Regions from separate parts of the Homo sapiens genome. Here all the other regions are linked to region 1. The links come from fine-mapping of genetic effects on gene expression. A gene starts in region 1. Each other region holds a variant in brackets. All regions are shown on one strand. Distances are from middle to middle.

The links. PIP is the estimated chance that this variant, and not a neighbour inherited with it, causes the effect.
Region 2: its variant is fine-mapped to the expression of SLC71A2 in whole blood (INTERVAL, PIP above 0.99). The same link has a PIP of 0.9 or more in monocytes.
Region 3: its variant is fine-mapped to the expression of SLC71A2 in monocytes after LPS (Quach 2016, PIP 0.95). The same link has a PIP of 0.9 or more in monocytes after Pam3CSK4.
Region 4: its variant is fine-mapped to the expression of SLC71A2 in whole blood (GTEx, PIP above 0.99).
Region 5: its variant is fine-mapped to the expression of SLC71A2 in whole blood (TOPMed, PIP above 0.99). The same link has a PIP of 0.9 or more in blood mononuclear cells and monocytes.
Region 6: its variant is fine-mapped to the expression of SLC71A2 in subcutaneous fat (GTEx, PIP 0.96).
Region 7: its variant is fine-mapped to the expression of SLC71A2 in macrophages (Nedelec 2016, PIP 0.91).

What each region holds. Positions count from the first base shown.
Region 1 is chr9:94,372,273-94,376,338 of GRCh38, forward strand. SLC71A2 (solute carrier family 71 member 2) reads left to right here and starts at 2,297. Exons shown (of 12, transcript NM_032558.3): 1 at 2,297-2,655. The coding sequence starts at 2,548. RefSeq lists enhancers at 2,065-2,566, 2,567-3,066 and a silencer at 2,116-2,515.
Region 2 is chr9:94,398,296-94,402,361 of GRCh38, forward strand. All of the region lies in intron 1 of SLC71A2 (solute carrier family 71 member 2), which reads left to right. Among named protein-coding and RNA genes, the nearest start is that of SLC71A2, 26 kb to the left of the region's middle. The variant G/GA (reference allele first, on the strand shown) is at 2,214.
Region 3 is chr9:94,423,017-94,427,082 of GRCh38, forward strand. All of the region lies in intron 2 of SLC71A2 (solute carrier family 71 member 2), which reads left to right. Among named protein-coding and RNA genes, the nearest start is that of SLC71A2, 50 kb to the left of the region's middle. The variant T/A (reference allele first, on the strand shown) is at 1,902.
Region 4 is chr9:94,485,267-94,489,332 of GRCh38, forward strand. It overlaps LOC107987100 (a long non-coding RNA gene), which reads right to left. Exons shown (of 3, transcript XR_001746844.2): 2 at 2,386-2,554; 3 at 176-612. Among named protein-coding and RNA genes, the nearest start is that of PCAT7, 68 kb to the right of the region's middle. RefSeq lists an enhancer at 2,812-2,981. The variant T/C (reference allele first, on the strand shown) is at 1,682.
Region 5 is chr9:94,352,478-94,356,543 of GRCh38, forward strand. All of the region lies in intron 2 of LOC100132077 (a long non-coding RNA gene), which reads left to right. Among named protein-coding and RNA genes, the nearest start is that of SLC71A2, 20 kb to the right of the region's middle. The variant G/A (reference allele first, on the strand shown) is at 1,945.
Region 6 is chr9:94,297,557-94,301,622 of GRCh38, forward strand. It overlaps ZNF169 (zinc finger protein 169), which reads left to right. Exons shown (of 5, transcript NM_194320.4): 5 at 2,259-4,066. The coding sequence ends at 3,814. Among named protein-coding and RNA genes, the nearest start is that of NUTM2F, 29 kb to the right of the region's middle. The variant C/A (reference allele first, on the strand shown) is at 1,616.
Region 7 is chr9:94,497,246-94,501,311 of GRCh38, forward strand. The region is part of intron 1 of LOC107987100 (a long non-coding RNA gene); the gene reads right to left. It also overlaps the pseudogene LOC100421692. Among named protein-coding and RNA genes, the nearest start is that of PCAT7, 56 kb to the right of the region's middle. The variant G/A (reference allele first, on the strand shown) is at 2,045.

The sequences.
Region 1 (4,066 bases):
TAAAAATACAAAAATTGGCTGGGTGTGGTGGCAGGTGCCTGTAGTCCCAGCTACTCGGGAGGCTGAGGCACCACAATCGTTTGAACCGGAGAGGCAGAGGTTGCAGTGAGCTGAGATCGCGCCACTGTACTCCAGACTGGGCAACAGAGCAAGACTGTCTCAAAAGAAAACAAAAAAACAGTTTACAAACTTTTCTGTTTCATGGATACAGGAATCAGAAACTGATACCCAAGCTCATAAGTGGCATAAACATAATACTCAAACAGCATAACATAATACATATATTCCCTCTGTGTTTTGAAAACTATTTGTTAAAACAATCATTCAGAAAAGTAGACAAATCAGGCTGGGTGTAGTCGCTCACGCCTGTAATCCCAGCACTATGGGAGGTCGAGGCGGGTGGATCACCTGAGATCAGGAATTCGAGAACAGCCTGGCCAACATGGTGAACTTGTCTCTACTAAACATACAGAAGATAGCCAGGTCGTGGCATGCACCTGTAATCCCAGCTACTCGAGAGTCTGAGGCAGGAGAATTGCTTGAACCCAGGAGGCACAGGTTGCAGTGAGCCGAGATCGAGCCACTGATCTAGGCTGGGCGACAAAAGCGAAATTTCGTCTCAAAAAAAAAAAAAAAAAAAGAAAAAAGACCAGGCCGGCTCGGTGAGCCGAGGGGGGCGGATCACTTGAAGTCAGTAGTTCAAGACCAGCCCAGCCAACATGGTGAAACCCCGTCTCTACTAAAAATACAAAAATTAGCCGGGCATGGTGACGCGCACCTGTAATCCCAGCTACTCGGCAGGCTCAGGCAGGAGAGTCGCTTGAATGCGGGAGGTAGAGGTTGCAGTGAACCTAGATCACGCCACTGATCTAGGCTGGGTGACTGTAGCCTGGGTGACAGAGCAAGACTCTGTCTCAAATAAATAAATAAATAAATAAAAGTAAAGACTTCTGCAAAGTGTGTGTGTGTGTGTTTGGGGGTAGTGGGTGGGAAGCGAAAAAGAGGCTTTTTTTTTTTTTTTTTTTGGAGACGAAGTCTCACTCTTGTCACCCAGGGTGGAGTGCAGTGCACCATCTCGGCTCACTGCAACCTCCGCCTCCTGGGTTCAAGCGATTCTCTTCCCTCAGCCTCCCAAGTAGCTGGGATTACAGGCATCCGCCACCATGCCCGGCTAACTTCTGTATTTTTAGTAGAGACGGGGTTTCACCATGTTGGCCAGGCTGGTCTGGAACTCTTGACCTCAGGCGATCCGCCCACCTCTGCCTGCCAAAGTCCTGGGATTACAGGCGTGAGCCACCACGCCCAACCTGAAAAAATTCTTAAATGAAATGACTTTAATTCAATTAAAATTACTAATCCTGTTAATAGAAATAATTTTATTCTTTTTTCTATTGATGTTTGTAAAAAGATTTTTTTTTTTTTTTTGTGAGACAGAGCCTCACTCTGTCGCCCAGGATGGAGTGCAGTGACGCTATCTCGGCTCACTGCAACCTCCGGCTCCCAGGTTCAAGCTATTCTCCTGCCTCAGCCTCCCGAGTAGCTTGGATTACAGGCGTGCGCCACCAAGCCCGGCTAATTTTTTTGGTGTTTTTTGTTTTTGTTTTTGTTTTTTAGTAGAGACAGGGTTTCACCGCGTTGGCCAGGCTGGTCTCTAACTCCTGACCTCAGGTGAACCAGCCGCCTCGGCCTCCCAAAGTGCTGGGATTATAGGTGTGGGCCACCGCTCCAGGCCTGTAGGCTTTTTTATATTTCAGTATTAGGTGCATATCTTTCAAAATAAATAAACATAAGCCAGGCTTTTCCAACTGCGTCCTACACATTCTACAAGATATTAATCATGTGTCAAGAATAAAAAGTGTTGTGTTCAAGTACGTTTGGGAAACATTGCTAGTATATTATTTTCTTCTTAGAGAACCATAGAAAAACTTGAGAGGTTGGCGGGTTGGCGCAAACCAAGACCAAAACTGAACTGCAATCACTACCAAACCCCCACGAGTTTGCCCCTCCCCGCTTGCTAGCCTCAGTCCAGATTCTCCGGAAAAAGAAATCAGTCGTACGGGCTCTCGAAATGACGTACTTCCCGCGCGCCGCGAAGTCCTGATGCCAAGGGGCCAGTCGCGAGGTAAAGGAGGGGTCTCTGAAGTGGGCGTGGCGTCGCTGGAGGCTACTCAGGCGCGGGACTCGTTCTCGAGGCGGGAGCTGAGGTGCGGGGCGGGGCCTCCTGCCCGGCGCCGGCCTGTGGGGAGGCGGGGCGGGGCACAGTCTCTTAACCGTGCAGCCCGCCCCTGACGCCGCCGGTAACTGCGAGAGTCGGGGTCGGTGCGGTTTGATAAGTGGTCGGTTCCTGGAGCTGCGGTCTTCTGCTAGCCTGATCCGCAGCTTCAGCCTCCGCCGCCTCCTCAGCCCTCGGCGCCGCCGCTGGCGCCGCCGCCTGACCCGCAGGCCGCCGCGGGCCGCAGAGCCCATGAGGGCGCGGGCACCGCCGCCGCCTCCGCGGCGTCGCCGTCGTCCCGGAGCGCCCCGGGCTGGCGCGGGCATGGCCGCGGCATGAGCGTGGAGCCGCCGCCGGAGCTGGAGGAGAAGGCGGCGTCGGAGCCCGAGGCGGGAGCCATGCCGGAGAAGCGCGCGGGCGCGCAGGCCGCGGGGAGCACCTGGGTGAGCGCGGGCGCGGGGCCCGGCTGCCTGAATCCCGGGGAGGCTGGGTGGGGTCGCACCCAGGGCCCGCGAGCCCGCCGCTCCGGGCAGGGGCTTCGGCTCTTGGAAAGTCGGTCCTTTTCTGGGGGGGGAGGCGAATTCATCACGAATACAGGTTTTTCCTAGTGACTGCTCATCGCAGACAAAACTTTACAGGATTTGGTTATTGTTTCAAAAGGCGCTAGACATGGGACAGTGAATATAAGTAGTAATTTGGTTATTTCGGAGTTCTCCGTCCCTGTAACAGTTGATAACAGTTTTCCTGGCGCAGTTTCTCTCCAAGTCTACATGGAAAACAGGTAGGGAGCATTTGAATCAGACCGTCGACGGGGAAGTTGGCGGCAGATGCCGGGCAGCGCCTTGCTGCTCCTTCCGTGTTCTCCCGGCGTCGGAGGGGCGGTCCTAGCGATGGGGAGCAGAGTTTCCAGGGGCGTTGCTGGGGACCAGCCGAGGAGCAAGTTAGGCTGGCCTCTTTCTCCAGTTTTACTTTTGCTTGAGGTCGAGATGGCTTCTGACAATGATACAGAAGCAATTGAGCCCTGACTTAACTGGCCTGGTTTCGGCAGAACAGGCCTTGTCTGTGTCAGTGGTTTCATATGGTGCAATATTAAGCCTAGAGGGTTTGTCGTTTCTTCAAGGCCTAAGTTTAAAAAGGATTTTTTTTTTTTGGTCTTAGGACCTGAAATATAGAGAATGTTACAGTGAATAGAAACTGACACAATGGGAAAGTTTTTCCAAAGAAAAGTAGAAATTTTATGGAAATTAAATACATGTTTTTGGCTTTAGATTTTTAGCTTACATATCTGATTTTGTGTTTAGTTGAAGAATGCTAAGTGTTTACATGAACGTATTTGGGGATGTAAATCCCTATTAGTAGGTTGGGAGGGCAGCTGAAGCAGAAGGAGCAGTAGGTAGAACGGATCCGGCAGAGCTGGTTTTTAGTCCTGGTTTTGCCTGAACAGTGCGCACTCTGGACAGGGTATTGAAACAGCCTTGCCCCTCAGTGCCTCCTCTGTAAAATGAGGACTTAGTTGAAGTCCCCTCCCAGCCCAAGTGACTCCCTATTTTGAAAAGCATTTCAAAGTTAAGATCTCTGTAATATGAGAAGCTTATTTTGTCGAGGGAGAGAAATTCTGTATAATTGCTTGCTCTCATTTTGATTCGCGTTAAGTAGACTTGTCCTCTTCCTGCTTGCTACACAAAACTAAAGCACCAGTTCCTCCTCCTGTCTCATGAATTGATGGACAGTAATTACTAACCAGTGGCCCAGCTAGTAACCTGCGAGGTAGCTTCCTTCATCCCTTCCCATACTTAAAACAATCAGAAAGTCTAGCTAAGTTTATTAGATACAGATTTTAGGTTTTTATCCTCT
Region 2 (4,066 bases), 26 kb after region 1:
GAGATGCAGATGAACTGGGGAGGAAGAAAGTTTTTATTTCTGCAATGGGTTACAGGGAGAATACCTGGAAATTATCACCAGGCCAACTCAATATTACAAAGTTTCCGTAGCTTATATACCTTCTAAGTTATATGTCTACCTGTAAGTGTGCATTCATCTTAATGATTAACAACTTTTGGTCCATAACTAAGGTCTGAGTCTTGAAGACCTTCCTCTGGAGCCTCAGTACATTTACTTAATCTAAATGGGTCCAGGTGCTGGAGTGATTACCCTTATCTTGTCTCCTGCTAAATCACGGAGGTTTGGGAGTTCCTTCACACCCCAATAAACTTGTTTGTGGAGGCCTGGGAAGTTTCTTTAGACCCACAGTAAAACTTGTTTAATCCTAAATGGGCCTTAAGAATTCCTTCATTATTTTGTCATGCTTTAAGGCCCAGGAAAGGCCTAGGCAAAACTCTTGGTGGGCTTTTGTTAAATTCCAGCCTTTGCATAAGGGTACTGGCTCTTCCCCTCCCCCCCGTCGCGCCCTCCGAGATGGAGTCTTGCTCTGCTCTGTCACTGAGGCTGGAGTGCAGTGGGGCAGTCTTGGCTCACTGCAACCTCCGCCTCCTGCGTTCAAGCGATTTTCCTGCCTCAGCCTCCAAAGTAGCTGGGATTACAGGCACCTGCCACCACACCCAGCTAATATTTTTGTATTTTTAGTAGAGATGGGGTTTCACCATTTTGGCCAGGCTGGTTTCGAACTCCTGACTTCAGGTGATCCGCCCACCTTGGCCTCCCAGAGTGGCTAGGATTACAGATGTGAGCCATCGTGCCCGGCCGGCTCTTTCAGCTTTTAACATTTAACTTAACTACTCAGTCTGTACAGAAACAGTTGTTTTGGGGGCCTGAGTTAGTGAGACCTGGCTTGCCATGCTTATATTCTGGGATTACAAGATACTCCACGCTCCTCTTACATATTTCCCACTCTAGTCCCAGAATTAGCTGTTTCTCCAAGGAGCCCTGGTTTCTTTTATTTGAGAATGGCATTTGAAACCAAGATGTGTCACACTAGATATGCTTATTGCCGTTGAGTTTCTAGGGTGTAGTTTCTTTCAGGCTCTTTCAGCTGATAGAGTGTGAGGAAACAGGTGTATATAATACACACATTTGTAAGTATTTCCATTTGTGACCATCTGTATCTATATGAAGTTAAAAATGAGTTCATAATGATGTGCTCAACTCTAATCCATGATTACATGGATCATTCTTGCTTCCTTCTCTTGTTTATTTGTAACCTTCCACTCCAGCAGTGAGAAACCTGGCTTCCACCATCTGCCATCCAGTTTATTTAATTGGTCAGTCACAGCATACATGGTTCCAGAATTGTTAATCTTTATTTCCATGGGGTACAACTTTCAACTATAGCATAACAGTGTTTAAGTTACAGAAATGCCAGGTGGTCGATCTAGGTCTTGTTTCTCGCCACACAGAAAGCCAATCACTGAGGTGAGTATTGCCGGGGAAAAAGCCTTTTTTTTTTTTTTTGAGATGGAGTTTCGCTTTTGTTGCCCAGGCTGGAGTGCAATGGTGCGATCTCGGCTCACTACAACCTCTGCCTCCTGGGTTCATGCGATTCTCCTGCCTCAGCCTCCCGAGTAGCTGGGATTACAGGCGTGTGCCACCACGGTGGCCTGGCTAATTTTGTATTTTTAGTAGAGATGGGAGGTTTCCCCATGTTGGCCAGGCTGGTCTCAAACTCATGATCTCAAGTGATCCGCCCGTCTAGGCCTCCCAAAGTTCTGGGATTACACCCAGAGCCACTGCGCCCGGCCAGAGAAAAATTTTGCCTTTTTATTTAGGTGTTGCCTACTGAAGAGAATGGGAGATCAGTTTCGAATCTGCCTCCTCGACCAACTAAAACTGGGGAGTTTATGTACCGAAAAAAGGAATGTAACTATGTGTGAGGAAAACAGCAATTAGGAAAAGGATAAGGAAGCAGTCCTGACCTATGAGGGGAAAGAGGTGTCTGGGGTCTCATTGTCAAATGGTGATTTGGTGAGTTTCAGTCCGTTGCCTGAGGAAAGAACTCATTGGAGACAAATATAAGTTTTAGGTTTTAAAACTGGAAGGGTCAGTTTCTATGTTTATTCAAAGACCTGTACATATAATTTCTATGGGGAAATTGAGCCAGTTTCATTTATGCGCAACTTTTTTTGCCTCCAGTCTTAAAG[G/GA]AAAAAAAAAAAACAACTGATAATATTTGTTGCCTATGATAAAATTCCAGCTTCCAAATGAAAAAAAAAAAAAGACTCCACTATTTCCCAGAGTTACTTGGATCACTGCCTTTCCCCATACCCCCTTTAGTGAGGTTGTTTCCTGTGTTTGTACTGCAATTAGATTCTTTTGCTACATTCTGCGTTCCATCCTGGGATTCTCCACCTCTGAAATGTTTTCTAAAAGTTAACATGTACTGAGGCTCACTCTTGTTCTCTGAAGTTCTGCTGGTTTTGAAAAATGCGTGGTGCCGTTTACCTATCATTAAAATATCATACAGAACAATTTTACTACCTGAAAGTGTCCTGTGCTTCATCCATTTAACCCTACCCTCCAACTCCAGCTACCACTGATCTGGTACTATCTATAGTTTTGCTTTTTCCGGAATGCCCTTTAAATGGTATCTTACACTTTGTAGCCTTTCAGACTTGCTTCTTTCATTTAGCAATATGCATTTCAGATCCATCCTTCTAACAATCTTGTTGTTTTAATTTGCATTTTAAAATGACAGTGACACATAATGAACATCTTTTCTTTTCCTTTTTTTTTTTTGAGACGGAGTTTCGCTCTTTCATGTGGGGTCAACTGCAATAGAAAAGAGGACCCTCAAACACAGGCTAATTTTTTTGTTGTTGTTTTTGAAACGGAGTCTCACTCTGTCACCCAGGCTGGAGTGCAGTGGCGCGATCTTGGCTCACTGCAACCTCCGCCTTCCGATTTCAAGCATTTTCTCCTGCCTCAGCCTCCCAAGTAGCTGGGATTACAGGCGTCCGCCACCACAACCAGCAAATTTTTTTGTATTTTTAGTAGAGATGGGGTTTCACCGTGTTGGCCAGGCTGGTCTTGAACTCCTGACCTCAGGTGATCAAGACCTGGGCCTCCCAAAGTCCTGGGATTACAGGCGTGAGCCACTGCGCCCAGCAATGAACATCTTTTTATAGGCATATTTGCCATCTGTATATCATCTTTGAGGAGACTGTTGCGGTCCTGTCACCCCTCCCCCTTTTTCTTGTTGACGATCGGGATTTATTACCTCATTTAACAAGAAATCTGATGGAAAGACAGTTCCAGGATTGGTCCTTGATTTTGCGTCAAGGACCAGGTTCTTTCCATCTTCAGTGTGTTGATTTGTCTGGCTCTCATGGTCTCAAGATGGCTGCCATAGTTCAGTTACAGGAAAGGGGTCCCAATCCAGACTCCAAGAGAGGATTCCTGGATAGACCTCGAACAAGAAAGAATTCAGGGCAAGTCCCTAAAGTGAAAGCAAGTTTATTAGGAAAGTAGAGGAACAAAAGAATGGCTACTCCATAGACAGAGCAGCCCTGAGGGCTGCTGGTGCCCATTTTTATGGCTGTTTCTTGATTATATGCTAAACAAGGGGTGGATTATTCATGCCTCCCCCTTTTAGACCTATAGGGTAACTTCCTGACGTTGCCATGACATTTGTAAACTGTCATGGCACTGGTGGGAGTATAGCAGTGACGATGACCAGAGATCACTCTCATTTCTGTCTTGTTTTTGGTGGGTTTTAGCCAGCTTCTTTACTGTAACCTGCTTTATCAGCAAGGTCTTTATGACCTGTATCTTGTGCTCCCTATCTTCATCCTTTGAGTTAGAATTCCTTAACTGTCTGGGAATACAGCCCAGTAGGTTTCAGTCTCATTTACCCAGCTCCTATTCAAGATGGAGTCGCTCTGGTTCACACGCCTCTGACAGTTCTAGGCTTCACATACAGTTAAAGTATTCCAGAGACAGAAAAAGAATCTCTGCTCTCTTTTCTCTCTATTGCATTTTAAAAATTGAGATACATTCA
Region 3 (4,066 bases), 51 kb after region 1:
ATGTCTGCCTCCCGGGTTCAAGCAGTTCCCCTGCCTCAGCCTCCCAAGTAGTTTGGAATACAGGCGCGTGCCACCAAGCCTGGCTAATTTTTGTATTTTTAGTAGAGATGGGGTTTCACCATGTTGGGCAGGCTGATCTTGAACTCCTGACCTCAAGTGATCTGCCTGCCTTGACTTCCCAAAGTGCTGGGATTACAGATGTGAGCCAGAATGCCCAGCCTGGGATTGCCTTTCTGTTCTCTCTCTCTCTTTTTTTTTTTTTTTCAGGGTAGGCAGGAAAGTATTTTTATTATAAATTTCAGGATCTAAAAAATATTTATTACATTTGCTACGATTAAGGTGACCTTTAAACCAAGCCACGTGTGCCCTGCATAGTGACGTCGTGACCCTCGGGCATGGAAAAAGACATAGGTCTACCCAGATAACCCGGATAACCTTCTGAGGTCTCTTCAGCCCTTTTCGCTAGTGGTCACCCACCACTATGGTTACTTGCCAGCAACATCTTTATTGCTGGATGGTCCCTGTGTATAACCCTGGTCTAGTATATTTTTTCCAATATGTGACCTCAGTCTTACTACTGACTAGTTCTGTGGGTCTCTTGCTAGGTGGTAAGGATTTTTATACTTGGGCTTATAGAGCCAGTTAGATCATAACTCTTATGAAATATAGAGTGTCCTAAATATCACTGAAATAAAAAGTAGGAAAAAGAAGCTTGAATTTTAAGACTGAGGCTGCTCTGAAGATTCTAGTTTGGCTTTCAGAGTTCAAGAATGGTGGCATCTTCACCTGAATTCTTCAATGTCAGGGCCTTTCTGTTCTCTTAATGCCTTTGGATGACACTAATTTTAATTGAATTTAAGTTTTTATGTAGTTGAATTTATTTTTGCTTATGGTTAGTGTTTTTAAAAAATCCTGTTTAAGACAACTTTTTCTACCACAAACCTTAATTGGTTTATTGTTCTCATGTAGTCCTATCATCCAGAAAGATCATTGTGTTTGGTAGGGGGTCAGTATTCACTTTGGTTGCAGAAGAATATATAGTTGAACCAGCATCATTTATTGAAAAAATTCTTCTTTCCCCACTGTACTGTGTCACCTTTGTCATAAATGAGACAACCGTCCATATATGGGTTTGTTTCTAAATTTTTTAGTATTCTGTTGAGCTATATTTCCTTGTGCCAACACCATCCTGTGTTAACTTCTATAGTAATATGTTTTTTTTTGGCGGAGGGGGGAGCAATGGAGTCTCACTCTATCACCCAGGCTGGAGTGCAGTGGTGCGATCTCGGCTCACTGCAACCTCCGCCTTCTGGGTTCAAGTGATTCTCCTGCTTTAGCCTCCTGAGTAGCTGGAATAACAGGCATGCACCACCATGCCTGGCTAATTTTTGTATTTTTAGTAGATACTGGGTTTCACCATGTTGGCCAGGCTGGTCTCGAACTCCTGACCTCAGGTTATCTGCCTGCCTCAGTTTCCCAAAGTGCTGGGATTGCAGGTGTGAGCCACTGCGCCCAGCCATAATATCTTGTATAAATTCCTTAGTGTGGTTCATTTTCCTCAAGATTGCCTTGGTCTAAGCCTTTTTTATGTCTGTATATATATATTTTATAATCAGCTCTTCAATACCCACAAAATAATCTGCTAAGAATTTTTATTATGATTGCATTGACTATAGATTGATTGTGGAAGAATGGACATATTGTTTTCTGCTTTTTTTTTTTTTTTTTTTTTTTATTCTTTGATTGAGAGTCTCACTCTGTTGCCCAGGCTGGGGTGCAGTGGCTAGATCTCAGCTCACTGCAACCTCTGCCTCCTGGGTTCAAGTGATTCTCCTGCCCCGACCTCCTGAGTAGCTGGGACTACAGGCGTGTGCCACCACAACTGGCTTTTTTTTTTTTTT[T/A]AAATAATAAATATCGGGTTTCAGCGAGGCTGGTCTTGAACTCCTGGTCTCAAGTGAGTATGTTGTGGAGAAATACTTTGAGACTGTCCAGATATCTTGTTCCTTTTCTGTTGTCCTACTAATTTTAGCATCCATAAATGCTTGTCTGCAACAGTTTTTACTGTGGTATTTGTGTAATGACATCTGTTTCCCTATCTTGTTCAAGATCAACCTCGGCGAAACCCCATATCTACTAAATTAACCAGGCATGGTGACGCACTCCTGTAATCCCAGCTACTCGGGAGGTTGAGGCAGGAGAATCGCTTGAACCCGGGAGGTGGAGGTTGTGGTGAGCCGAGATCGTGCCACTGCACCTGAGCCTGGGTGACAGAGTGAGACTTTGAATCAAACAACAACAAAAAGACAGTATGTCTGTTCTTTCCCAATTATTCTGTGGTCAATGCAATCATAATCAAAATTCTTCGCAAGTTATTTTGTGGCTATTGAAGAGCTGATTATAAAATATATGGAGACATAAAAAAGGCTTAGACTAAGGCAGTCTTGAGGAAAATGAGCCACACTACAGAATTGGTCATGGATGAAATCATGGGGCGTTGAAGCTGTCTTCTTGAGTTGAGTCAGTTCCTGAGTTGGGGCCACAAGATCAGATGAGCCAGTTTATCGATCTGGGTGGTGCCAGCTGATCCATTAAGTGCAGGGTCTGCAAAATATCTCAAGCAGTGATATTAGGAGCAGTTTGGGGAGGGTCAGAATCCTGTAGCCTCTAGCTACCTGATTCGTAAACCATAATTTCTAATCTTGTGGCTAATGTTGGTCCTACAAAGGCAGTCTAGTCTCCAGGCAAGAAGGAGGTCTGCTTTGGGAAAGGGCTATTACTGTCTTTGTTTTAAAAAACTATAAACTAAGTTTCTCCCAAAGTTCATGCTATGCCCAGGAATGAACAAGGACAGCTTGGAGGTTAGAAGTAAGATGGAGTCGGTTAAGTTAGATCTTTCACTGTCTCAGTCATAATTTTGCAAAGGCTGTTTCAAGTTTACAGTCAGGCTGTAGCCAGTTTTCCACCTGTAGTCTAGATACCTGTGGTTACTAAGAGTGTAGTTCTTCAGCCCAGGTGGAAAGCCTTATTCCCTAAAATTTAATGCAGGGACTGGTTATAGGCCCTCTTGCTCTGTGAAAGTGTGGATATTCTAGAGTACTGAAGTACTCTATAGGATTATGTGGTCATAGGACTTTGTGCACTTTTGGCAGCCATAAGAGATCTGGGGCACCGTCCTTTTTGAATCTCATTCCGTTCAATCCTGCAAGTATCCCACTTAGAAGTCCCACAGTTTTCAGAGAACTGTGCTTGTGATTGTTATCCTGGTGCCATATCTGTAGGTCAGCAGCTTTGAGAGGAAGACACCAGGGAGCTTACTTTGTGACCTTTTAGTACCCTTTCATTTATGGCTATTTTTTCCTACTCCTCTGATTTGGGAGGTTTCTTTCTGGGTTCTGGAAAATGAACTTCTTCAAGGTCTTCTCTTTCATCTTCAAGTGCTACTTTTCTTCAGCTCTTTTTTTGTTGTCAGTCTTTTCTCATCTGTTCTGTATCATCCAGAAGCGCCTTATGATTCTTGGCTTTCTAGGAATGCTGTAAATTTAATTTCATGTTTTTTCTGTTATATCTGTGGAAGTGGAGAAACACAGCTCTGTGTATGTTTATTACATGTAGATATTTCTAAGCTTTGTTGTACTGGAAGACAGTTCATTTCTTAAAACTTTATAGTTATTGTTTTAAAAGTGATAAGCAAGTGTCATTTTTTTCTTTTAAAATGTTTCCTATTTTTTTCAGGCAAATGCCATTTTATTTTATGTTTACTGTAGTCCTTCTCAAGAATACTTAAAGGGGATATTTTCCTTGAGTTATTTTTATTTATTTATTTAGATAGATAGATAGATACAAGGTCTTGCTCTGTTGCCCAGGCTAGAGTGCAGTGGTGCAATCATAGCTCACTGCAGACTTGATCTTCCGGGCTCAAGGCAATCTTCCCACTTCAGCTTCCTCAGTAGCTAGGATTACAGGTGTATGCCACTGTGCCTGGCTAAGCTTGAGATTTTTTTTCATACAGAGATGTTAAAAATGAAAGCTTTGATCTTCTCTGAGATATTTAATACACCTTTTATTA
Region 4 (4,066 bases), 110 kb after region 1:
CCAGCTATTTTTTGTATTTTTAGTAGACACCGGGGTTTCACCATATTGGCCTGGATGGGCTCCATCTCCTGACCTCCTGATGCACCCTCCTCGGCCTCCAAAAGTGCTGGGATTACAGGCGTGAACCACCACGCTCGGCCACCTCCTCTTGTACTTGGGAGAAATGCACTGATTCTGGTTGCCACGTGGATTTATTTTGGGAGTGATATTGATCTAACTTTATGGAAATAATACTAGATAGAAAGTTAGCGGATGGATTCTCTATCTAATGAGAGTTTTGGGCAAATCGAATACCAAGTTTCCGAGTCTTACTTTTCCTCTGATGCAAGAAAACTCTGAATTAGCCAGCCTGTGAAAAACTCTCACAGCTCTGGATGTGAGTTTAGGACACTGGATTTCTACCACTCAATTTCTTACTACTTTTCTTGCGCAGGGATCATGGCACAAGTTGCAGTTTCCACCCTGCCCGTTGTAGATGAGGAGTCCGTTGAAGATGAGGAGTCCATTGAAGATGAGGAGTCCTTGGAGAGCAGGATGGTGGTGACATTCTTCATGTCAGCTCTTGAGTCCACGGTGAGACCTTCTGTTCTAACATTCTATGGTCGGGTAGGACTGGGCGGTAGATAAAATTGATTTGTTTTTGTAGAACATATAATTTTATGATTTTTATTTCTAATGAGTATATCTTTTTCTTGAATAGTAGTTATGATCAAACACTTCTAACCAAATGTGCCATGTTATCCAGCCTGGTCTCAAAATTCTGGGCTCCAGCGACCTGCCCGCCTTAGCCTCGAAAAGTGCTGGGATTACAGGTGTAAGCCATTGAACCTGGCCAAATATTTTTCTTTGTATGGCTGAATAATACTCTGTATATGTATATATTACATTTTCTTCATTCACCATTCATCCATCATCCATTCATCCATTCTTTATCAACCCTGATGGGCATTAGGGTTGGTTCTACCTGTTGGCCACTGTGAATAATGCTGCTGTTAAACGGGTGTACAAATACCTGTTTGAGTCCCTGCTCTCAGTTCTTTTGGGTATATACGCTTAAAGGGTGTTGGTGGATCAAATAATTCTATGCTTAGTATTTTTAAGGAGCTGCCAAACCATTTCCCACAGTGGGCTGTACCATTTTACATTCCAAAAAGCCTCCAATTTCTCTATAGCATTACTGACAGTTAATATTTTGTTTATATACTGTATTTTTATACTGTTTGAAATTAATCTGAGGGTTTTTGCTAATACCAAAATATTAGGAAAGTTTTTCCAAAAATCATATTCCTTATTATAAAGACTTTTACATGTTACTTGATGCCCTGTGATCTATTTTCTCAGTAAGAAGAGGAACTTCCTGGCTGGGCGCGGCGGCTCATGCTTGTAATCACAGCATTTTGGGAGGCCGAGGCAGGTGGATCACAAGGTCAGGAGTTCAAGACCAGCCTGTCCAACATAGTGAAACCCAGTCTCTACTAAAAATAATAATAAAAAAAAATTAGCCGGGTGCAGTGGCAGGCACCTCTAATCCCAGCTACTTGGAAGCCTGAGGCAGGGAACTGGTTGAACCCGGGAGGCAGAGGTCGCAGTGAGCCAAGACAAAGACACTGCACCCCAGCCTGTGTGACAGAGTGAGATTTGGTCTCAAAAAAACAAAAAAGAAGAACTTCTCTCCATCCAG[T/C]CTCATTCCACTGCACCAACTCTTTTTTGTGTCGGGTTGTGCAGGGGAGAAAGGGAGCTTGGCACCTCTTTCCTGTGTTGACTTGTGGTAGCCCATCACTGGGCACTGGGTTGTACAGCGCCTTGTCTCCTCTTTTTTGTTTTTGTTTTTTTGAGACCGAGTCTCACTCTGTTGCCCAGGCTGGAGTGTAGTGGTGCGATCTCAGCTCACTGCAACCTCAGCCCCCCCGGGTTCAAGCGATTCTCCTGCCTCAGCCTCCCAAGTAGCTGGGGCTACAGGCATGTGCCACCACACCTGGCTAATTTTTTATTTTTAGTAGAGATGGGGTATCGCCATGTTGGCCAGGCTGGTCTTGAACTCCTGACCTCAGGTGATCCGCCCACTTTGGCCTTCTGAAGTGCTGGGATTATAGGCATGAGCCACCGTTCCTGGCCGCCTCCTCTTTTACTTGGGAGAAATGCACAGATTCTGGGTGCCATGTGCATTTATTTTGGGAATGATATTGATCTAACTCATGGAAATAATACTAGATAAGAAAGTTAGCGGATGGATTCTCTAATCTGATGAGAGTTTTGGGCAAATGGAATTCCTAGTTTCTGAGTCGTATTTTTCCTCTGATGCAAGAAACCTGTGAATTAGCCAGCTAGTGAAAAACTCTCACAGTTCTGGATGTGAATTTAGGACACTGGATTTCTATCACTCACTTTCTTACTACTTTTCTCACGCAGGGATCATGGCACAAGTTGCAGTTTCCACCCTTTCCTTTGAAGATGAGGAGTCTGTTGAAGATGAGGAGTCCTTGGAGAGCAGGATGGTGCTGACATTCCTAACGTCAGCTCTTGAGTCCATGGTCAGACCTTCTGTTCTAACATTCTGTAGTTTGGTAGGATTGGGAGGTAGATAAGGTTGATTTGTTTTTGTAGAATGTATAATTTTATGATTTTTATTTCTAATGAGTAGATCTTTTTCTTGAATAGTAGTTATGGTCAAACACCTCTAACCAAATGTGCATGTGGAGTTTCTACACCGATTTTCGGACAATCTGGATACCAACTGGGTATCCCACAATTCCATCCTGACACTCCCCGGAGTTAGTGCAGACCCCGCAGGATGGGGGCTCAGTCCCAGGAGTCTACCCTCACTCCACATGCCAATTGCAAGTCCTGGGTTGTTAACATGTACTTTTGACAAACCAGTTAGGAAACAGGGTCTCATAACCCCCTTCGTGGGTGGAATCATTTGCTAGGACAGCTTGCGGAACTCAAAAAACAAGTTATTTTCTTTTATTCTCAGATACAGGGTCTCACTCTGTTGCCAGGCTGCAATGCAGTGGTGTGATCAAAGCTCACTGTAGCCTCGAGCTCCTGGGCTTAAGTGATCCTCCCGCCTCACCCTCCCAAATAGCTGAGACTACAGGCCTGCTCCACCACATCTGGCTATGTTCTTTTATTTTTTGTAGAGATGGGGTCTTGTTATGTTGCCCAGGCTGGTCTCAAATTTCTGGGCTCACATAATTCTCCCACCTCAACCTCCCAAAGTGCTAGGATTATGGGCATGAGCCACTGTGTCTCACCAATTTACGTTCTATTACTGGTTCACTGTAAAGGATATATGTTAGAAACAGCCAGTGAAAGAGATGTACATGTTGGGCACAGTGGCTCATGCCTGTAATCTCAGCAGTTTGGGAGACTGAGGCGGGAGCATCACTTAAGCTCAGGAGATTAAGACCAGCCTGGGTAACGTGGTGAAATCCCATCTCTGCAAAAAAATTTTTCTAAACGTTAGCCAGGTGCAGTGACATGTGCGTGTAGTTCTAGCTACTCAGAAGGCTGAGAGGATGGCTTGAGCTAGGGAGGCATAGGTGGCAGTGAGCCACGATTGTGCCACAGCACTCTAGCCTGGGAGACAGAGCCAGACCCTGTCTCAAAAAAAAAAAAAAAAAAAAAAAAAAAAAAAATGCACAGAGCAAGGTATGTGGGGGGAAGGGCACAGAACTTCCATGCTCTCTGTTGTGCATGTTACCCTCCTCATATGCCCCTTGTGTTCAACAACCCAGGCATTCTCCAAACCCTGTTGTTGAGGGTGTTGATGAAGGCTTCGTTATGCAGGCATGATTGTTGAAATCATTGACCATTGGTGATTAAGTCAATCTTCGGCCACCATTTCTTCTGGAGCTCAGTGGGTGAGACTCACAGTTCCAAGCCTCTGGCAACCAGCCCTCCTCCTGAAGCTGTCTAGGAGCTTTCAGTCACCCAGTCATCCAGTAACATCACCAAATGCATTCGTACTATGGTGGAGATCCCAAAGGTCTTAGAGGCTCTTGTGTTAGAAACCTGGGACTAACACCAAATATTGAAACAAAAGATGCCCCTATCACCTTTATCA
Region 5 (4,066 bases), 20 kb before region 1:
ATGCCTAACCTCCTGGGAATGCAGCCCAGCAGGTCTCAGCCTTATTTTACCCAGCTCCTATTCAAGATGGAGTTGCTCTGGCTCAAATGCCTCTGACACCAGCACTCATTATTTTCTGTTTTTTGTTTTGTTTTACAGTAGTCATTCTGATGGGTATGAGGTGATGACCAATTGATTTTTGACAGAGGTGCAAAAGTAATTCAAAGGAGAAAGGACAGTCTTTCCAAAACCAGTGTTGGGATAATTAGTCATCCTGCAAAAAAATGAACCTTGACCTAAATTTCACCTTATACACAGACTAACTAAAAATTGATTTTACACGTAAATGTTAAAATTCAAAGCATAATATTTAAAAAAGAAAACAGAAGAAAATTTTCATGAACTGAAGTTAGACAAAAAGTTCTTAGATATGATGTCAAATGCCTGATCCACTAAAAAACATGACAAATTGGATTCATAAAATTTAAAACCCATGCTCTGCAAAATACACTGTGAAGAGAATAAAAATACACACCACAGACTTGGAGAAAATGTTGAGAAATCACTTATCTGACAAAGACTAGTATTCAGAGTATATAAAGACCTCTCAAAACTCAACAGAAGGAAAATAGAGTTTAAGTAAAAAATGGGTAAAAGACTTGAGCAGATACTTCATCAAAGAAGTTATATCGATGGAAAATAAGCACAAGAAAATATTTTCAACATCATTAGCTATCAGGAAGTGCAAATTAAAACCATAGTGAGGCTGGGGACAGTGGCTCATGCCTGTAATGCCAGCATTTTGGGAAGCTGAGGCAGGAGGATTGCTTGAGCTCAGGAGTTCCAGACCAGCCTGGCCAACATAGTGAGACCCTGTCTCTACTAAAAATCAAAAATAGCTGGGCATGTCTCTACTAAAAATAAAAAATAGGTGGCATACCGCTGTAGTCCCAGCTACTTGGGAGGCTGAAGTGAGAGGATTACTTGAGCCCTGGAGATTGAAGTTGTAGTGAGCTATGATAGCACCACTGCACCCCTGCCTGGGTGACAGAGTGAGACCTTGCCTCCCAAAAAACAAACCAAAAAAACCATAGTGAGACACCACACCATCAGCTAAAATAGAAAAACTGACCTGACCAAGTGATGTGGAGAATGTGGAGTAACTAGAACTTGCACACATTTCTGGTGGGAATGGAGAATGATGCAGTCACTCTGGAAGAACACTTGGCAGCCTTTTATAAAGTTAAACATATACTTACTATATGACCCACCAGTCCCACTCCTAGGTATTTACCTTAGCAAATGAAAAGTTACGGCCGGGTGCGGAGGCTCATGCCTGTAATCCCAGCACTTTGGGAGGCCGAGGCAGGTGGATCACAAGGTCAGGAGATCGAGACCATCCTGGCGAACACGGTGAAACCCCCTCCCTACTAAAAATACAAAAAATTAGCCGGGTGTGGTGGTGGGCGCCTGTAGTCCCAGCTACTCGGGAGGCTGAGGCAGGAGAATGGTATGAACCCAGGAGGCAGAGCTTGCAGTGAGCCGAGATTGCGCCACTGCACTCCAGCCTGGGCGACAGAGCTAGACTCTGTCTCAAAAAAAAAAAAACAAACAAAAAAAAACCATAAAATTAAAAAAAAGAAAAGTTATGGTCACATGAAAACTTGTATAGCGGTGTTTCATAAAGCTTTGTTTGTAATACCCCCAAACTGGAAACACTGAAAACTTCTCCCACTGGTAAATGAGTAAGTAATCTTTGGTACATCCATACAGTGAATGGAAGACTACCCGGCAAAAAAAGGGACCCAGCAACTTGATTGATCTCAAAGGTAACATTCTGAGTGAAAGAAGCCTGTCTCAAAAGGTTTACATATTGTATTATTTCATTTATGACAACCTCAAAAAGATGCAACTATAAATGTTAGGCAACAAATCGGTGGTTGCCAGGAGTTAGTGGGAGAATGT[G/A]GCCTTAAGGGAGCAGCACGAGGGAGTTTCTTAGGGTGATAGAGCTCTTTTGTATCTGCATTGAAGCAGTGGCTATATGAATCTGTGTTTTTTAAAACTTCAGGAACTGGCCAGTCATGGTGGCTTATGCCTGTAATCCCAGGACTTTGGGAGGCCGAGGCTGGAGGATCACTTGAGCCAAGGAGTTTAAGACCAGCGTGGGCAACATGGCAAAACCCCATCTCTACAAAAAATAGAAAAATTAGCCCGGTGTGATGGTGCATGCTTGTAATCGCAGCTACTTCGGAGCCTGAGGTGGGAGGATCGCTGGAACCCAGGAGGGGGAGGCTGCAGTGAGCTGTGATCATGCCAGTGTACTTCAGCCTGGGTGACAGTGAGACCCTGTTTCAAAATAATAATAATAATAATAATAAACTGATAGAACTGTACACAAGAAAAGTCAATTTTACTGTAGGCTAACTTAAAATTAAAATATATAAAATAATGTTTACATGAATACAATAAAAATGTTAACATAAATAACAGTTATGCAAAAAATAACTTCACAAAAGAATTTCCAAAAGAAAAAAGTTATAGTGAGAAGAATGACATTGTTTTACAATTTTGCAAAGAATTTTTTCTGCCTTAACAGAAGACACAGGATTCAATTGTATATATGTAATTCTATGTATCTTACAGGCTCAGCAAAGCTCTACTCATTGTCTACACTCATGAGACAATGAAAGTAAATTAGACAAGTCATTCCCAGTATCTTTTTTTTTTTTTTTTTTTGAGATGGAGATTCACTCTTGCCCAGGCTGGAGCGCACTCACGTGATCTCAGCTCACTGCAACTTCCACCTCCCAGGTTCAAGCAATTCTCCTGCCTCAGCCTCCCAAATAGCTGGGATTATAGGTGTTTGCCACCACACCTGGCTAATTTTTGTATTTTTAGTAGAGACAGGGCTTCACCAAGTTGGTCAGGGATCCTGACCTCCAGTGATCCGCCTGCCTCGGCCTCCCAAAGTACTGGGATTACAGGTGTGAGCCACTGCGCTCGGCCCCAGTATTGTTTTGAGAATACTTTTGACCTCATAGACCGTTCTTCTAAAAAAAGATTTGGGGATTCTCCAGGGTTCCCTATGCCACACTTTGAGAACCACTGGCCTATGTTATAACTTTGCACTAAAGGAAGTACTTTTCTTCTTATGATTGGTTTTAGGGAAAATATTACTTTATCCTTCATAGAAAAAAATCATTTAACATATTTATTGATTGAATTATGATATATAGTCATAATTTTAAAAGTCAAATTCAGATGTTTCTTTTTTTTTTTTTTTTTTTTTGAGACAGAGTTTGCCCAGGCTGGGGTGCAATGGCGCGATCTTGGTCACTGCAACCTCCACCTCCCGGGTTCAAGCCATTCTCCTGCCTCAGCCTCCCAAGTAGCTAGGATTACAGGTGTGTGCCACCATGCCCCACGCCCAGCTAATTTTTGTATTTTTAGTAGAGACGATGTTTCACCACGTTGGCTAGGCTAGATATACAGATGATTCTTATACTTAAATGGTCACTTTGTTTATGATTTCCAGCAATAACCAGCCCTAGGAACCTTAAAAAACCTTCCTTAAAGTTTTTTTTTCAGGCTGGGCGCAGTGGCTCACGTCTGTAATCCCAGCGCTTTGGGAGGCCGAGGTGGGAGGATCTCCTTAGGTCAGGAGTTTGAGACCAGCCTGGCCAACATAATGAAACCTCGTCTCTACTAAAAATACAAAAATTAGCCAGGCGTGGTGGTGCACATCTGTAATCCCAGTTACTCGGGAGGCTGAGGCAGGAGAATTGCTTGAATCTGGGAGGCAGAGGCTGTAGTGAGCCAAGATTGCACCACTGCACTCCAGCTTGGGCAACAGAGAGAGTCTCTGTCTCAAAAAAAAAAAAAAAAGTTTTTTTTCAATTATAGGAGAGTAGATGTTTTCACCATATGAGAGTAATGACTTACAAATTATTTACTGTCAAAACTATAACATAGCCATTTCTTTTTTTTTTCCACCCCGAGACGGAGTCTTGCTCTGTTGCCCAGGCTGGAGTGCTGTGGCCTGATCTTGGCTCACTGCAACCTCTGCCTCCCTGGTTCAAGCAGTTCT
Region 6 (4,066 bases), 75 kb before region 1:
CTAAAGCTGCTGAAGTTCCCTCTTGCAGATATGATCTTACTGACTCTAATCAATGATACAAAGAGTTTTTCTTAGGAATAGTATGGTCAAAAATAAGAAATACGTATTTTGTGATTAAAAATAGTTAACAAATAGAATAACATATAAATCAGTATTGTATTTATAATCGTCTGCCTTGAACCAAGGGTCTTCTGTTAAGTAGTTTAATTCCATTAAATTGTTCACTTCTGTTCTGATAGGGCACTTGAAACCCTGATTCAGTTTCTTGCTATGGGTTGCTACTTGCCAGGTACATTTCTGATCAATGCTCTTAAAAATTTGTTCCAGGGGCTGGGCGCGGTGGCTCACGCCTGTAATCCCAGCACTTTGGGAGGCCAAGGCAGGCGAATCACTTGAGGTCAGGAGTTTGAGACCAGCCTGGCCAACATGGTGAGACCCTGTCACTACTAAAAATACAAAAAATTAGCCAGGCGTAGTAGGTGCGCCTGTAATCCCAGCTACTCAGGAGGCTGAGGTGGGAGAATTGCTTGAACCCAGGAGGTGGAGGTTGCAGTGGGCTGAGATAGTGCCACTGTACTCCAGCCTAGGCGACAGTGCGAGACTCCTTTAAAAAAAAAAAAAAAAATTTGTTCAAGGAGACTCAATTTCTAATCTGAGTTAAAAAGCAGGAGTCTTTAAACAAAAGTAAGATAAAAAAGATAAACTAGCCATGAATAAGAAAATGCCTTATTTTTCTCTTACCAAATGCTTTGCTTATTCACTACAGCAAACAATTTCAGAGATAATGAAAGCAGACTTCTCTATTGAGGGCTGTCCCATAATGACTCATAAGAACTTAGTCCTGCCGAGCGCAGTGGCTCATGCCTATAACCCCAGCACTTTGGGAGGCCGAGGCAGGCGGATCACCTAAGGTCAGGAGTTCGAGACCAGCCTGGCCAACATGGTGAAACCCCGTCTCTCACCTAAGGTCAGGAGTTCAAGACCAGCCTGGCCAACATGGTGAAACCCGATCTCTACTAAAAATACAAAACTTAGCCGGGCATGGTGGTGCACGCCTGTAATCCCAGCTGCTCAGGAGGCTGAGACAGGAGAATTGCTTGAACCAGAGGTTGCAGTCAGCCAAGATCACGCCACTGCACTCCAGCCTGGGCAACAGAGCGAGACTCTGTCTCAAAAAAAAAAAAAAAAAAAAGAACTTAGTCAATAATTACCTAGGAGTTACGGTATCAACTTACGGAAGCTGAAAGCACTGCCAATTTCCAGAGCCTTTAATTTATACCATCATGGGAATTAGTGTTATCTCCAATTGGCAGCCTATTTAAACCTAGAAACAAAATTTTTTGAAAAAGTCAATTTGTATAGTTTTAACAGTTTTTGTGCATGGATAAGAATATGCTTAAGCCGAAATATGTATAATCCCTGAAACATCTTTATGCTAATGAGAAGTCATCTATTATTAACTTTCAAACGCTGAGCTTCTCCTTAATTCACCAGATTTTTTTAAAAATCCTGGATTATTGAGCAAAACAGTGTACGTAGTGTTGTGCAATGCTATTCGGGGAATATACTTGGCTGCAGTCTTCCCAGAGGCTAGAGGACAGCACCTTCATTTGCC[C/A]GGAGGGCAGCATCAGGGATTCCTCTTCTTCAAGAGGACTTAAGGGTGTCCATACAGTTCAGGAGACAACTCACATCAGGCTGATATGGAAGCTCCCTGGCCTAAAGCCTATTCCACACAGGAGCCAGTATCTCTTGCTACAGCTTATCTGATTCGTGGGTGCCCCTTACTTGAGTCACCACAGTCAAGGAAGCCCAAAGCATGGCTCCCCTTCAGATGCTAAGATCTTATTTATAGCACCTTCAAGATCATAATCAGTCTGTTTCTTAACTGCAGCTCAGACACCAAGTTCTTGGCTCTTGCATAAACAGCAGGCCGAACAAATGTTTCTCAGGCAAGGTTTAATAGGCTTGAGCTGGAGCAAAAGCAAGGGAGCGGCGCCCAAGAAAGGAAGATAAATGTGTAACTCTACTTGCAGCAATTTATAGAGCTGAAGCTGCCTGTGATGCTTTTTTGAACCTTTTAGTTTGGCTGATAGGACTAGTTTGTAGTGTGGGTTTTCTGTGCTGCAATAGAGCATGTAATGTGCCCTTGTGGGTTGGAAGATAAGTCTTTGTTGTGAACATCTGAAGAAAACTGCTGGGCAGGTATTACAATCCATGGTCACCTGTGGTGATTCTGACCAAGACTTTCTCTCTAGCAGAGCCTAGAACAGAATTCCAGCCAAGTTTTCCCCACCTGGTGGCCTTTTCTAGCTCGCAGCTCCTCAGACAATATGCGCTAAGTGGCCATCCCACACAGATCTTCCCAAGCTCATCTGCAGGAGGTGACTTCCAACTAGAAGCTCCAAGATGCTCTAGTGAAAAAGGAGAAAGTGGAGAGACAGAAGGCCCCGACAGCTCATTAAGAAAGAGGCCAAGCAGAATTTCTAGGACATTCTTCAGCCCACATCAAGGTGACCCAGTAGAATGGGTAGAAGGGAACAGAGAAGGAGGAACAGACCTTCGCCTGGCCCAAAGGATGAGTCTTGGGGGGTCAGACACAATGTTGAAGGGAGCAGACACTTCAGAATCTGGAGCAGTCATACGTGGAAACTATAGACTGGGACTTAGCAAAAAGTCAAGCCTGTTCAGCCACCAGAAGCATCATGTGTGCCCTGAATGCGGGAGAGGCTTTTGCCAGAGATCAGACCTTATCAAGCACCAGAGGACACACACCGGGGAGAAGCCATACCTGTGTCCTGAGTGTGGGCGTCGGTTTAGCCAGAAGGCCTCCCTCTCCATACACCAGAGGAAGCACTCGGGGGAGAAGCCGTATGTGTGCAGGGAATGTGGGCGACACTTCAGGTATACATCCTCTCTCACTAATCACAAGAGGATTCACTCCGGGGAGAGGCCCTTTGTATGTCAGGAGTGTGGGCGAGGCTTTCGCCAGAAGATAGCCCTCCTTCTACACCAGAGGACGCACTTGGAGGAGAAGCCCTTCGTGTGTCCTGAGTGTGGGAGAGGCTTTTGCCAGAAGGCATCACTCCTCCAGCACCAGAGCTCACACACAGGGGAGAGGCCCTTCCTGTGCCTTGAGTGTGGGCGTAGCTTCAGGCAGCAGTCACTCCTCCTTAGTCACCAGGTCACACACTCAGGAGAGAAGCCTTATGTCTGTGCTGAGTGTGGGCACAGCTTTCGCCAAAAGGTCACTCTCATCAGGCACCAGAGGACACACACAGGGGAGAAGCCTTACCTGTGCCCCCAGTGTGGGCGGGGTTTTAGCCAGAAGGTCACCCTCATTGGACACCAGAGGACACACACAGGGGAGAAGCCCTACCTGTGCCCTGATTGTGGGCGTGGCTTTGGTCAGAAGGTCACCCTCATCAGACACCAGAGGACACACACAGGGGAGAAGCCTTATCTGTGCCCCAAGTGTGGGCGTGCATTTGGCTTTAAGTCGCTCCTCACCCGACACCAGAGGACACACTCAGAGGAGGAGCTTTACGTAGACAGGGTGTGTGGACAAGGACTTGGCCAGAAGTCACACCTTATCTCTGACCAAAGGACACACTCAGGAGAGAAGCCCTGCATTTGCGATGAATGTGGGCGCGGCTTTGGCTTTAAGTCTGCCCTCATCCGACATCAGCGGACCCATTCTGGGGAGAAGCCGTATGTCTGCAGGGAGTGTGGGCGTGGCTTTAGCCAGAAGTCTCACTTGCATAGACACAGGAGGACCAAGTCTGGTCATCAGCTCCTACCCCAAGAGGTCTTCTGACCTTTCCTTTCCCCGTGAGTGTGAAGCTGGCAGAAATCACTAGTAAATGCTTCAGTTTCCTGAAATGGAATGGAAAAAAAAAAATGTTGCTTTCTTTCATCGATCATGAGATAGTTGATTTTTGGTTTACTTTCTATATTCACAATTTGTCTTGGCTTGCTAGGGGTTCCATAACAAAGTACCCCAGGCTGGGTGATTTTGACAACGGAAATATATTTTCATATTTATGGAGGCTGGAAGTCCCAGATGAAC
Region 7 (4,066 bases), 120 kb after region 1:
CTGTGCCCGGCCCTTCTGTTGCCGCTTCTGATAACCATGTGAAAATCCTTATAGGGAGAAAGTAGTGATGACTTACCACTTTCTCAAATTAAAGGAAAGGAAATGATCAGCTAAATAATTTTTTACATGTATATTTGAGCACATACAAATGCTTGTCTTCACAGACATTTTGAATTAAGTTTATCTATTGTAAGCAAATGTCAGTCTTGGCCATGCATCTCAGTGTGCTGCTTTTATCTTTACAGCTCTTGTTCAGAAGTGATACCTGAAACATTCTCAAAAAAGGAAGAAAGGCCGGGAGTGGTGGCTCTCCCCTGTAATCCCAGCACTTTGGGAGGATTCTGCTATATATATAAGAAGGCCAAAATAACTTTAAAACGCAGACAGACTTTCAGAACCATTTCATAAAGTACACAAACACACACACACACACACACACACACACACACAGAAGACAGGAATTAAAAACACAACAGCTGGTGCGCTTCATGGTTTTAAAACTCTTAATGGTGCCTGGAAATATAATTATAGCACAGTAATAGATGTTTATAGTATTTATACTGTATATAAATTGAAAATACTGTATTTTAGAAAATTTCTCATTAGAAATATTTACCTCAAGTAATTAGAATTTAAAATTTATAAATATGGAACACTTAATTGTTCGATTCCAATGTGTGAGAAGTTCCTATAGAAGCATTGGCGTGGTGCTTTTATGTCCCAGTTGGTATCAGTGCTCTCTTTTGATCACAGGCCTGTAATCAGCGTTGATATTTTTCACATTAAGACATTTTGAACTTTTTCTTACAGGGTTTCTCTGCTGGGCTGTTTGCATTTTGCCATGATGAAGATGGAAATCCTCTCACTTCAAGATTTGCAGATGGCCTCCCACTTTTTAATTTTAGGTTTTTTTTTTTTTTTTTTTTTTTTTGAGACGGAGTCTCGCTCTGTTGCCCAGGCTGGATGGAGTGCAGTGGCGTGATCTTGGCTCACTGCAAGCTCCGCCTCCCAAGTTCACGCCATTCCCCTGCCTCAGCCTCCCGAGTAGCTGGGACCACAGGTGCCCACCACCATGCCTGGCTTATTTTTTGTATTTTTAGTAGACAGGGTTTCACCGTGTTAGCCAGGATGGTCTCGATCTTCTGACCTCGTGATCCGCCCGCCTCGGCCTCCCAAAGTGCTGGGATTACAGGCATGAGCCACCGCGCCTGGCCAATTATAGGTATTTTTCATTTCTGTTCTTGTTCTCCTCTATTAGAAGGGTGCCAAGACTAGAATCTGAGAATCATAGCATATTAGATGCCATAAATAATAACGTCTTTATGGCAAACCCATCGAAATTGTAGATAATAAAACAAAATAGGGTATAAGAGGCCATTTTATGAAAACATAACTTGTGAGATAGGCAATATTTACATAACGATGTAAGTAAGGAGGAGAGAGATACCCATACACAAGAACCATTCTTAAGCTGATAATTTGCAGTGCTTTCTTGCATTGAGCATATTCCTCAAAAGCATCAAACCTTCTGGCCAGGCACAATGGCTCGTGCCTGTAATCCTAGCACTTTGAGAGGCTGAGGTGGGCTGATGGCTTGAGCCCGTGAGTTCAAGACCAGCCCAGCAATGTGGCAAAACCCTATTTCTACAAAAAAAAAAAAATAGAAAAATTAGCCGAGCATGGTTGCATGTGCCTGTAGTCCCAGCTATTCAGGGTGCTGAGGTCAAAGGATCAGTTGAGCTCAGGAGGTTGAGAATGCAGTGAGCTGTGATCACGCACCTGCAGTTTAGCCTGGGTGACAGAGCAAGACTGTCTCAAGAGAAAAAAAAGAGAAACCTTTCAGTAAAAGTGAAGATTAAATAGAGTAATAAATTCAGTTGTTACAGATAAAAGAATTGGATTTGGCTTTAAGCTGTGTATTTGGGGAAACAATCTGAAGTATGAATGGTAAAGAGAGACTGGAGTGATTAATAAGGTAAAAACTTTATTTTCCGGCTGGCTTTGTTCACTATTTATGTTTAAACATTGCCTTGCCATGGAAACA[G/A]ATAAAGGAATTAAAAACAACCTCTTTAAGGCATGGGTAGATGAACAGATACGTGATAACAAATATAACAAAATGTTAATTACAGAATCTAGGTGAGCTGGTTACTGATTGTAAGAGTGTTTATTAAACAATTCTTTTAATGTTTTGTATGTTTGAGATTTTTATAAAACAATATTGGAGAAGAAAACTCTCTTTATGTTTTCTGTTCTTTTGCTGAGAATGAGAGATTTATAGGGAAAATGGCAGAAGCAGTCTAGGGAATAAGCCAGAAAAAAATGATTTAGGTTACAGGGAAAAATAAAAATTGATATCCATCATAATTTTCTGTAATAGATAAATATGTTACTTTTGTAGTAGTGCTTTTATTTATGCAGGATAGATTTCCCAAACTGGGATTGCTGATTTAAAATCTGTTTACACTATAAATTTTAATAGAAACTGCCATACTACATTTTTTTTAAAAAAAGGTATAGCAAAGCAGATTCCTACCAGGCGTGTATGAATGCTCGTTACCAGTTTATCAGTATTGGATATTATAGATCTTTTTTATTTTTTAAGCCCAATTTGATGGATGAAAGATGGTATCTCATTGTTGTATTTCCAGGACTATAGTGAGGTTTTAGCCATTTGCATTTTCTCTTTGTACACTGCCTATTTATTTTCCTTGTCCTGTCTTTTAGGTTAATTTTCCCTTTCTAATCACATTGTAGGAGTTCTTTATAAGTTAGAGATAATACCCCTTTTCATGTTTATTATAAATATTTCTCCTAGTTGTTTATCGTTTTACTTCATTTATCATGCTTTTGCCACGTATAGAAAAATTCTTAAGTTTTTTATCACTAAATTCATCTATCTTTTTTTTTTTTTTTTTTTTTTTTGAGATGGAGTCTCACTATATTGCCCAGGCTGGTCTTGAACTCCTGGGCTCAGGCAAGCTTCCTGCCTCAGTCTTTCAAGCAGCTGGGACTATGGTCATGTGCCACTGTACCCAGATGTTTTTTTCTTTGTTGCTTAAGGCCTCAAAAGATTATAAAAATATTCTCTTACATTTATTCTAATAAATTATTATTCGGCTTCTCAACATTTGTAGGTTCGATCCATTTGAAACTTTTTTGATTTATGTATTTTGGGATTCTTTTGTAGGGTGCATATATGTTTATAATTGTTATATCTTTATGCTGGATTTACACTTTTTTTGGGGGGGACAGGATCTCACTCTGTTGCCCAGGTTACAGTGCAGTGGCATAATCATGGCTCACTGCAGTGTTGAGCTTCCCAGGCTCAGGTAATCCTCCTACCTCAGCCTCCTGAGTAGCTGGGACTACAAAAGTGTGCCACTATGCTCGTCTAATTTTTTATTTTTATTTTTATTTTATTATTATTTTTTGAGATGGAGTCTCTGTTGCCTAGGCTGGAGTGTAGTGGTGCAGTCTCAGCTCACTGCAACCTCCACTTCCCAGGTTAAGGTGATTCTCCTGCCTCAGCTTCCCAAGTAGCTGGAATTACAGGCATGTGCCACCACGCCTGGCTAATTTTTGTATTTTTAGTAGAGACGAGGTTTCACCATGTTGGCCAGACTGGTCTCATTCTCCTGACCTCAGGTGATCTGCCCACCTCTGCCTGCCAAAGTGCTGGGATTACAGGTGTGAGCCACTGCACCTGGCCTACATAGTATATCTTTTTATCCTTTTACTTTCCACCTATTTGTGTTCTTTAGTCTAAACTATGTCTCTTGTAGATGCATAGTTAGATCATGTTTTTAAATTCAGTTTTCCAATTAACCCTGTTCTGCCTGCTACAGTGGCTGTCAGGCTACTGGTTTTCACCATGATTGTGGGCTGTCGGTTTGCAAGGCTGCCTGAAAGCTGGAGAGAGGGCATGGAAAAGCACCACAAAGTTCCTGTTTCTGCTGAGATTCATCCATTTTTCATGAATAAATGCTTTCTGCATTGCTGTAAATCTTTGATTAATTTCCAAAGTTTAAAAAGTTGATTTCACCAATTTGGGTAGCTTTCTCGTTGC